Homo sapiens: one gene and its partners. The protein of the gene in region 2 purifies or fractionates together with the protein of the main gene of each other region. This does not show direct contact. Each region holds a gene or a part of one and is shown on either strand. Other genes may lie near its edges.

What was found.
Region 1: the proteins of CSTL1 (region 2) and SPARC purify together in Homo sapiens (affinity purification with mass spectrometry; one large-scale study listed by BioGRID and IntAct). This does not show direct contact.
Region 3: the proteins of CSTL1 (region 2) and NRP2 purify together in Homo sapiens (affinity purification with mass spectrometry; one large-scale study listed by BioGRID and IntAct). This does not show direct contact.

The regions. Positions count from the first base shown.
Region 1 is NC_000005.10:151,662,906-151,666,555, forward strand, and holds part of SPARC (SPARC isoform 1 precursor), read right to left. Parts: intron 3,605-3,650; coding exon 3,456-3,604; intron 1,331-3,455; coding exon 1,182-1,330; intron 695-1,181; coding exon 666-694; coding exon of another isoform or gene 550-665; 3' UTR 1-549.
Region 2 is NC_000020.11:23,438,046-23,441,795, reverse strand, and holds the start of CSTL1 (cystatin-like 1 precursor), read right to left. Parts: upstream 2,112-3,750; 5' UTR 1,990-2,111; intron 1,653-1,989; 5' UTR 1,529-1,652; coding exon 1,310-1,528; intron 1,020-1,309; exon of another isoform or gene 897-1,019; intron 1-896.
Region 3 is NC_000002.12:205,685,401-205,689,050, forward strand, and holds part of NRP2 (neuropilin-2 isoform 2 precursor), read left to right. Parts: intron 1-3,650.

The DNA of each region.
Region 1 (3,650 bases), on a different chromosome or scaffold from region 2:
AATGTGAAAAGAAACTGCACTGAAAGGTAAAGGAGGAAATGGTGATGAACTGGGCTTATGTGAGAATGTCTATATTTTCATAACACAGCCCCAGAATCTTTCTCTCAGTTACAGCCTCAGGCAAACCACGTTCTGGTTGGTGGGTTCTGCAGGGATCTCTCCCACCACTGAGCCTCTAGTCCCAAAACCATCCTTGACAACATCGTGTGTCTGTTACTTCCCTTTGCCCACCTCCAGGCCACCTGGGGAAGCCCACAGGCAGCCAAGACCCTGAAATGAAATGAACACAAAGTCTGACTCGGTAAGTATTAGTTTCAAACAGAACACTAAAGAGAAAAGTTGAAGCTGCAATGTGTGTTTAAGGCAGAGCCCAGCAGATCCGTGTCCACCCATGTGCCAATAAGACAATGGGCAAAGCTACAAATGGCAAGAGAAAAATGGGACTATTAATGCGTGTGGAAAAGGCCTTAATAGTTAAGTTACAGCTAAGAATGTCATGTCTTGGGTTAGAATTTTCATTTTTAGCACCGTTAATGTATTCACTTAAATCTATGTTAGCACCTTGTCTCCAGGCAGAACAACAAACCATCCAAACATTTTAAACATTGGGGGAAACACGAAGGGGAGGGTTAAAGAGAGAATCCGGTACTGTGGAAGGAGTGGATTTAGATCACAAGATCCTTGTCGATATCCTCTGCAAAGCAAGAAAAGAGCACGGTTAAAAATAAGGCTGTGTCGATGATAACGCACTTCCCAAGGAGTCAGTGGACTCCCACCCATCCCCAGGGGCAGGGGTCTAGGTGGCCATGCAAGGTCACCCAGGAAGTCAGTGACGGAGGAATCTCGCTCTCTCTGTCTCTGGCCTGTCCCTGTCTCTTACACACGCTGCCAAGTTACACTTCCTGTTTCCTCTCTGTGTGCCTGCCAGTTCCCAAAATAGTGTTTAGCACGGGTGAGTGCTAACGCTTGAGGAAGGGAAAGAGAGAGGGACAGTTGGATGGACAGAGAAGGATCAGGAAGACGCCCAAGAGACAGGAGTCAAATAGGCAGAGAGAGCAGAGACAGGCAGAGAGGACAGACAACAGACAGACCAAGAGAGCGGAGAGTGGGGGGATGACAACCCAGCACCCTGGGAGCAGTGTTTCTGCCCATGCCCCTTGCTTCTTTGTTCAGACACTCACTCTGCTTGATGCCGAAGCAGCCGGCCCACTCATCCAGGGCGATGTACTTGTCATTGTCCAGGTCACAGGTCTCGAAAAAGCGGGTGGTGCAATGCTCCATGGGGATGAGGGGAGCACGCAGTGGAGCCAGCTCGGTGTGGGAGAGGTACCTGCAGGGAAGGAGGCAGGGGAGGGCCTGAGGCATGGAAAAGCTCCACACCCAGCCTTGGGAGGCAACCGGGGAGTTAGCCTGCCCCAGAGCATGGAGGAAAGGATATTTAAAGCAGGACAAAAAGCCAGAATCCCAGGTCTACCCCTAGCTCTGCCACTGACTGCTCTGAGACTCAGAGAACAGCAGTGCACCATTCGGAACCTCAGTTTCTCCTTCCAGCAAAGAGGAGGAGATGGCCATAATTACTAACGGCCCTTCCAGCTCTAAGGTTTCAGGGTCTCAAAAACAAAGGTCTGTTTGGTGTATTTGATTGTTTCCTAATTGGCTGAGAACTGGGGACACAGAAACTTAAAATCAAAATTCAGCACTTCTGCTATGGGTAGATCAAAATCTAGCATGACACAGCACTGTATATTGTCTATGGACACACATTTATACATCTATAAATGCCTAGTAAAGGGTCTAAAAATGACACACCAATCTGGTGACAGTGCTGCCTTCTGGGGAGGAATGTGGAAAGGGACTGGGATTGGCAGTGAGGGTCAACGGGAGCTCTAACCATCTTCATAGAGCTTTGCTTGTGTATCCTGTAATGTCTGAGAGGGAGGCCCTTTGGATGTCTCTCCCACTGTCCTCCCTCCCTATTCTCCCTGCTGGCCTTAGACTCCAGAGCATGTGTATAATTTTTTTCTTTGTTTCCCAGAGCCCCCAACTACTTGTCCCTAAAGATCCACAAAGGATCTCCAGGGAACAATGTGACTCCAGTTGTCTTCTTAACCTCTAGACCTCGCAGCCCCACCCAGCTCACCAAAGAAATCACACAATGTTTGAACTGATAGGAACATTCTCCTCCCCTTCATTGTACTGGTGGAAAACTGAGGCCCAGGGAGGGGCAGGGATGCAGGCAAGGTCACCTACAGCCCTGGGATGGGAGGAGGAGGAAGCGGGTCCCCTTGCCCAAGCTGGACCCCTTTCCCAGATGTGCTGTTCTTGCACCCCATCTGAAAGCCTCCCTCCAGGCCCTCTGTTGCAGTGGGATCAAATTGCTTTGCCTGAGCTCCAGATGTTCCCCTTTGACTTTTCCCCTCCCTGCCATAATGAGTGACTCAGTTGGATCCCAGCCATGGCAAAAGCCTGGGAGAGAAGTGGCCGGGAGATTCCCAGAGCCCAGGAGACCCCAGCCCTCAGGATCACTGGCAGGGTTGGCAGACTCCAGGCACACAGGCTGGACAAAGAGCGAGGGGTGAACATCCTAGAGAGGAAGTTCCCTGAGTATGTGAGTAGGGCAGCCCTTCCTTTCCCCTCTGTGTGATGCTCTGCTTCCACAACCCAAGGACGAAGAAAAAACCACTCTGGGAAGGTGCAGGTGTAGCTTGCTCCATCTGAGGCTGAGCAGGGGCTCTCACTTCATCACCACAAGAGAAGTTCAGAAGGTAGTGACAGGTTATGAACAGAGTATAAGTCCATGAGGGCAAGGACCATGCCAGCTCTGACTGCTGTTCAATCCCCTGCCTAGAATAGTGCAGGGCACAAAATGCACACTCCATAAGCATTTGCTAACTGGCCAGCTGCCTGCCTGTTCGGCAGTGCAGTTGCACAGGGCCTCATAACTCGTTTGGACAAGGGACAAGAGCCCTCAAACTGGGGGCTTGCAAAATAGACAGGCTTTTTTGGATAACTTCCAGGGTCAGTTGGGCCCTATTGGGGCTGAGCCTTAGGAGGGGGCTTAGACAGTGCCAGGTGGCTGCTCTGCCCCTGGATGTTCTGCTGAAGGACAGGGGGCGTGTGGCTGACCCAACCTTGTCCCCTGCCACCCCTTGGAGCCTGGTACTCCTTCTTAATTCACACTCCTTCATTATCCAGATATCCACGCCTAGTACTTGCAGGATTATGGAGCTATTTTGAGCTCCTACTGACTTTCACCTCAGCATGAGAGTGTCTTATCGGTTTCTTTGTCCCAGGTCCACATCTTTTCTCCAGATGCCTCATCCTTCTGCTCCAATCCCCAGGCAAACTGTGGATGCCAGGGCTTGGAGCAGTATAGGCTGCTGAGAGGCTTTCTGGCCATAGCTAGTGCACCTGCCAGCCTTGAGCTCTGTTCACTCTAGGGTCTGGGGTCTTACCCGTCAATGGGGTGCTGGTCCAGCTGGCCGAACTGCCAGTGTACAGGGAAGATGTACATGTTATAGTTCTTCTCGAAGTCCCGGGCCAGCAGCTCCACGGGGTGGTCTCCTGCCTCCAGGCGCTTCTCATTCTCATGGATCTTCTTCACCTGAGGGAGTAGAGACTGTGTGTGACAAGAGGTCCATGGAGATTGT
Region 2 (3,750 bases):
CCCCAACTTCTACAGTCAGCCCTCTGTACTTACGAGCTCCATATCTGTGGATGCAAACAACCGTGCATCAAAATATTCAGGAAAAAAAAATGTATGGTTGCCTGTATACTGAACATTTTTTCTTGTAATTATTCCCTAAACAGTACAGTATAATAATTATCTACATAGCATTTACACTGTACCACTTATTATAATTAATCTAGAAATGATTTACCATATGTGGGAAGATGTGCATAGGTTATGTGGAAACACTATTCCATTTTACATAAAAGACTTCAGAATCCATGGATGTGGGCATCCTGAGGGGTCCTGGAACCAATTCCTCATGGACACCAAGGGGACTGTATAGTTTATTATCTGACCTTGAGGAAATGTTGTACCAATAAAAGGGGTTCCCTAACAACTTTTCTTTCTTCTATTATCCTTCAATTGATATATTTCAGAGAAATTTTATATGTAAAACAGAAGGTGAGGTGATCTGGCTGAACCCTATCTCTCACATCCTCTCCACTTCCAGAATAAACCCTCTGTATAATTTGAAGTTTGTATAACACAGAACACCCAGTTTTGAATTTTACAACCCTACACATTGAAAAAATATTGGGGGCTACAGGCCTACAGAGAATATTTGTATTTTGCCAAATGAGAACTTTAAAGGGAGCAAAATTATCCTTGCTGTCACTCCGGCAGGGTCAAATATCAGAATGAAAGGCATTTCTTCCCAAGGAAAAAGAGCTGGCCGGGCGTGGTATCTCACGCCTGTAACTCCGGCACTTTGGGAGGCCGAGGTGGGCAGATCACCTGAGGTCAGGAGTTCGAGACCAGCTTGGCTAACATGGTGAAAACCGGTTTCTACTAAAAATACAAAAAATTTAGCCAGGTGTGGTGGTACGTACCTGTAATCTCAGCTACTTGGGAGGCTGAGGCAGGAGAATCACTTGAACCTGGGAGGAGGAGGTTGCAGTGAGCCAAGATCATGCCATTGCACTCCAGCGTGGGCAACAAGAGCGAAACTCCATCTCAAAAAAAAAAAAAAAAAGAGTTTAATCCTCAGTGAACACTTTTGCCTCTAAGTGTATTGGAGTTAGAGTTCATGCCAGTCCTTAGGAAAGCATTTTGGAAGCATGGCTAAGGACATTCTGGGATCTGAACAACTCTACAATGTACCTGCTACAAGTGAAGATGCTTCCCCCTTGGGACCTCACGGAGGACCACCACTTGGTTCTCTTGGGAGCTACCCCAGAATCCTCACATGTCTGAACTGGCAAGAACAGGGCCTGCTGATGTCTTGGGAGAGCAAGGTACAAACCTGCATCTGACTTCGAATTAGCCTCTGGACTCGATATAAGTAGGTGTCGTTGCTGGCATTGTTGTAGGATTGAATGAAGAAGTTGAGTGTTGAATTCATGTTCTTCTTGCTCATGAGCTTCTGCTGGAAGCCCTCCCACCTTTGGAAGTGACCCAGCTTGGCTGACAGGACCAGGGCAATCAGCAGCAGCAGGGGGTTTCTCCAGCATCCGATCCCCATGTCTACAGCCTCAGAAACTTTCTTCCCAACTGCACCTTCCAGGGTGTGGTGGTGCCAGGCTGCAGTTCACTCATTCTCCCATCATAACCCTCACCAACATAGGCTTTCCTGGGGGATGGCCTGCCTGCATTTAAACAGAGATTCAGACCTGAACCTTGTCACTCAGTTTCCAGCCAGTTCATTTTCTACCCATTTACACCACCCATTCAGTTCTTTGGTGATCCAGGCAAGCAAAATTTTTAAACACCTGCTAAGGCGTGCAAGCCCCTCTCCCTGCCTTCACATGTCTCAGGGAAGAAAAGCCCCAGAACAGCCCCTACAGTGCTCTGCAATAAGAGCTGGGGTTGTAGATAGAGAAGCATCACTTACAGGAAGGGAGGCGGCCTTACGGAGAAGGTAATATCTGAACTGAGATATAAGGAAGCAGTCATATGGAGCAAGGAGTGGTACATTATTCTTACCTTCCTTGGGTTCCAACTGTCTTACAAAGCCACCACCTGTTCCCTGTGCTTCCTTTACAGACACGTTCTCCTTGCTCACCTGCCGCCCGCCCACCACAGATTTCTGCTTGCAGGATCCCCCTATACCTGCAGGCCCTGCACTGGCTTTTGCTATCTTGTTGTGACCCTAGTGGAGCTTTGTGAGGTAATTGCAGCCTCCCTATGAGGGAGGAATAAACTGTGAGCCCCATTTAGAAATTATCCGCAGACCCCTGAAGATTAGGTGTCACTTACCCCCAAAAGCCCATGAATGCCCTATTTTAAAAACATTTGCTGGCTGGGCGCGGTGGCTCACGCCTGTAATCCCAGCACTTTGGGAGGCTGAGGTGGGTGAATCACCAGAGATCAGGAGTTCGAGACCAGCCTGGCCAACATGGTGAAACCCCATCTCTACTAAAAATACAAAATTAGCTGGGTGTGGTGGTGTGTACCTGTAGTCCCAGTTACTTGGGAGGCTGAGGCAGGAGAATCACTTGAACCCAGGAGGTGGAGGCTGAAGTGAGCCGGGAGGGTGCCGCTGCACTCCAGCCTAGGTGACAGAGCGAGACTGTGTCTCAGAAAAAAAACAAAAAACAAACAAAAAAAAACACCTTAAATGGAATCCTACCAGAAAAAAACATTAGTGGAATAGTTGATGAAATGTGAATAAAATCTGCAGATTAGTTAATAGTATTGTGTGAATGTTGATATTCTAGTTTTCACCGTTGTACTGTGATTGTATAATATGTTAACATTTGGGGAAGTGGAATGAAGGGTATACGAGAATGCTTTATGCTATTTTTGCAGCCTTTGTGTAAGTCTGAAATTATTCCAAAATAAAGGTTAAAATGTCCAAAACTAAATAAAGCGTTGTTCTGTGAGGAGTAGCGTGCTGAGGGAGGGGAAGCAGGAGACTTAGGATCCAACTGTCCTGGCTCAAGTCCTTCGCTGGGGACTCTGGGAGAGTTACCTCATCTCCCTAAGCTGGGTTTCTTCACCTGTAATATGAGAATGGGGAGAAAGACTCCACTTGAATTGTGGTAGAGACTAACTGGATGTAGGCAAAGAACCTGCTCCCAAGTCAGGTGTCAGGTGCATAAGAATGTCTTCTTCGTGATTCTTCTGTGACTCTGAACCCACACTTCACCCATGGCCTGTCATGTCCCGGAAGCCAGGCCACCTTCCATCATGACAATGTTGCTAGCACCAGTCACAACATCCTCCCTTGGCCCCAGAGCCTGTCTTGAGAGGACTTGTCCAGCCGGTGGAGGTGATACATTTGAAATTCCCTGAGCCTGAGCTGCCGAGGGCCACTTGCTGTAGAATAGATAATGAAGGATTCCGAGTAATCCGGGAAGCCACACAGACCTGTGCCGTCTCAGCATGCCCCAGACACCTGGGATACCCCCATCAGGCTGAGGCCCATAGAGAGGAAAAATAACATTGGGTGGGCCATATTAGAAACCCCATGGATGTGGGGCTCAAAGCATAAACAATAAATCTGCTTAAGAAATATGGGAGTTGGTTGTGTCCATAAAGAGGAAAATGAGTCACTGGCAATTTTAATTGAAGAAAAGGAAAACATAGACCCTGACTATGCCACAGAAAGAGATGTGAGGCGCCTAACAGGTCACACTGGCGTTCCTTAGCTTGTGTCAGCAAAATGCTGATTTCTGACTCTGTGGACATGGAATCAGGAAAAAAATATGATTCTGGTAAGGTACATGTATAAAGGGAGACAGG
Region 3 (3,650 bases), on a different chromosome or scaffold from region 2:
GCGAGGCCAAGCCACATACCTCTGACTCACCCGGTGTGCGCCGGCCGGGAAGGGGGCCTGGTTCAGCCGCCGCCGCCGGCGACGAGAACCAATTCTGGGAAGGAGCAAGATGGGGCAGAAGGTGCGCGCGGGGGAGCAACTGAGCAAATAACACGGCGGTCGCGGCGCGCGGCACCTTGGGCTGGCGCGTGGCTGGGAGGCCGCATGGGCGACGCGCACCAGGCTGCCCCTCTCCTCACTGCGCCGCCTCGCCAGACCGCAGTGCAGCCGCTAGCCTGCCTCCCTCCCTGCCCCGGGCGCCCCCGCCAGTCCCCTGCGCTCCGCTCTGCGCGGCAGGCTCGCCGCGACCCCTAGAGAGACGGCTTTGAGTGGCGGGAGGCCGAGGCCGGCTGGCTTGGGAATCCAAGCGCTGGCCCAACTAGGTGAGAGGAAACTGGGGTGGGATTTCGGAGAGGAGGGCGGAGAGAGGCGGGAAGGAACCAGCTTGAGCCCCAGGAATGCGCGCAACTTGCACAGCCTCTAGAAGCGCCGCGCGCCCAGCGCCCGCCGGTGCGCAGGAACAGGTGAAGAGCACGCGGCGTGCGGCCATCCACGTGGTGGGGACGTGATAGCCCCTCAGCTCTCCTCCTAGCCCTCCCTCCCCTTCCCCGCCCCCCAGCGCCTTCTCTAACGCCGCATCGATTTGTTTGGGCTACGCAGCAGAAACAGAGCCCAGCGATCCATAAACATTCTATTAAGCAAAAATATTCCCAGCGAAAGCAAAACCGAGGCTGAAGCCTCCGCGAAGTTGGCCGCCTCCAACTACTCCATGCTTGTGCCCTCCTCCTCCTCCTCCTCCTAAGGACACCCCCAGGGAAAAGCCTGCGGCATTTCTTCAACGCTGCCCTATGCCGGAAAGTTAGGTCTCGGCTGCAGCGCTGGTCTCTGGAGAAGCCTCTGCCTGCAGCCGCCGGCGAGTTCCCGCCTCCCCTCCCCAGCCGCCTCGCTCTTTGCTTTTCCACGTGAGAAAAAGAAATGTTCACGGCCGATGCTTCATTTTCACTGATTGATTTCTTTTTAATATCAACACAAGTTAATGGAGGCAAGGCGCGCTCTGATTGAAGGGCTGCCCCCGCCCTTCGACTCGGGCTGGCTGTGCCGGGGGTCTTTCCCACCGGGTCGCAGGCGTCCAGCGGCTGGGTGGCGGGCGCCGGTAGCCCTAGTGTTTGGAGGTGGGGGAGGGATTTGGAATAGACTTGTCGCCCCTCTGGGAATCATCTGGGTTGGGGAACCTTCGGGAATCAGCTTTCCAGACCAAGTTTTAGGGGATCTTGCCCATATGCGTTGCGGCTTCTGCGGCTCCGGCTGAATTTCTTCTAAAAGATAGGAGATCCACGCTCAGGTTTATTGGCGTGTGCTCCCTGCTCGGCTCCCCTCCCTCCACTTCCTGTTCTTTCGGTTTCAGACAGAGAGGAGAGCCCCCTGGCGCTAGCCATTCCCGATCAGCGCCCACTACGAACGTCCCCTTTGCTAGAGTTAATCATGATCTGCGGGGGGACTGGGTTTTGCTCAGAAAATCATTCAAGTCCTGACAATGGGTTTCTTCAAATGGTGGCAACTCCCAGGCCTAATGTCCCCACCTCCGGGACACATCGCTTGGGGCCAAAAGAACCCAGACCCCATAACCATCTACCCCTCCCCTCCTCGTCTGGAGAGCTTTGATCTATGCTTGGGTTTTAACGCCATTGCCATGGACACGCGCAGATTCTCGGTCAATTCACCCTTCCGTCTGGACTGGATGATCAGATAAGAGGTGTAAATTGGCTGTGGGAGACAGGTCTGGGTTCAGACAAATCCTGAAAGAGAAGCAATGACGGTCTAGGCGCCGGATAAGGGTTTGAAGTGTTTCTTTTAGCCTGTCTCCCCAAAATGTGAGATGGCCATTGGCGAGCATAATAATTTGCAAGTAAACTGTAAACTCCTAGATTTTACGCAGACGGCCTGCTCTGGGCTCTAGGGATTGGTCTCATGCCCACATTAAATGGGTACCCAGTAAACATTTTTCCCCCGTGATCAGCTCCTGGAGGTAGGGAAGCTGTGGCCAGTTGCCAGCAGAGCACACAGTGCAAGACAGTGGCAAGAGGAGCACTCCCCAAAGGGCCCCGGGCAGGCCCCTACTCGTCCAAGCGGTGCCTGGTGGAATTGTGAATGCGCCAGTGCACATCAGGTTTGGAGTTTTATGTCATCCCATAGAGCCCTCAGACATTAAGCTACGGAGCACTCAACTGGCAAAATGAAAGATTGGAAGGCTGCAGTGACTGGAACCCAGGCTACCCAGACAGGACTCCTGCTGTCTACCAAATGGCTCTGATCCCCTGCTGTTGAATGTATCAAGTCCACGTTCTGCAGCAGAAAGGCCAGTTCCTATCTTCCAGGCATAGAAAAAGCTAGGAATCCAAATGCCAATTCATATGCAGTGAGGCACGAATACAAATGACAGTGAGGGAGGGGTCTGGGGTCAGTGAGGAGAGACACCAGGGACCAGATGATTCTGGGGACCCTGGTGTTTTTCATTTCACTCAAGTCTTCCCTAAAGCAATCAGGAAAATGAACTGACTCAGGATGACCTGAGTGTAAGACAATTCTGAGTTGACAGAATTCAAGAGCCAGGTAAAGAGGTTTCCAAATATATTCTCCAAAGGTCCAGTTTGGAAAGACTTTAGGAACTTGAGCTGAGATCTTCCTTTCTTAAAAGATAGAGCAAAAGAAGAATATCTTTTTAATTTCTTGAACTGACAAGAAAGGACTTGAAAAGTGTCATCTGGGCAATGGCTTGTAGTGTTATTAACATATTTGAGGTATTTTATTATCTGACCATCACTTGCAACTGGATAATCTTTGAGATACCTTCCTTGAGTGGCAGATAAGTATATTGATCACCAGAAGTTAGTCTTTGTACTGTTCCTTCCAGGTAAGGACTTGGCTGTTTGCTGATTTTTGTTTTTTAATTAACCCATTTCTGGAAGATGCTGCAGAAGTTTGTCCTGGAGAGCTACAGTATTTTTCAAAGCTTTATCTGCCTTGATGAGAAATGGTCAGAGGCTTAATGGTTTCATTGCCTAACAGGATTCAGTGGAGTAGGATTCCAGGACACAGTGGCCTTGTATCATGGCTGGCCCTCCAGGAGAAAGCATCTTCTAAAGGTTTAGGAAGCTGTCAAGTTTAGATAAGGCTGAGCTCCGATCCTCTGGGACCTTGGTTGTATTAATAAGGAGAAATTAATTTTTAACCACTGGGAACATTGCCAAATTATGTGACCTTTGGCAGACCAGCTGTGCTATAAAAATAAATCCCCCATTTCTGAAAATGCTACTCCTATCCAGTAGAACAATAACAATGTGGCATTTAGGATAGAGAAGAGTAGGATTGAGAAGAAAGGAGAGAAATAGGAGTTGGCAAAAAACAAAAAAACAAAACAAAACAAAAAAAACAAAAAAACCCTTCGATGTTGTGATACATGGTTTCAGACCTGAACTTCCTATCCATCACCCGCCCTCCCCGGCCCCATGCCTAGGGTTTCCAGAACACAGGAAAGAGGGCCAGGATGACAAGGAGCTGAGTGCCTGTGTGTACAGGGAGTGGAGAAGGTGTTAAGTGCTTCCAGCCCACTC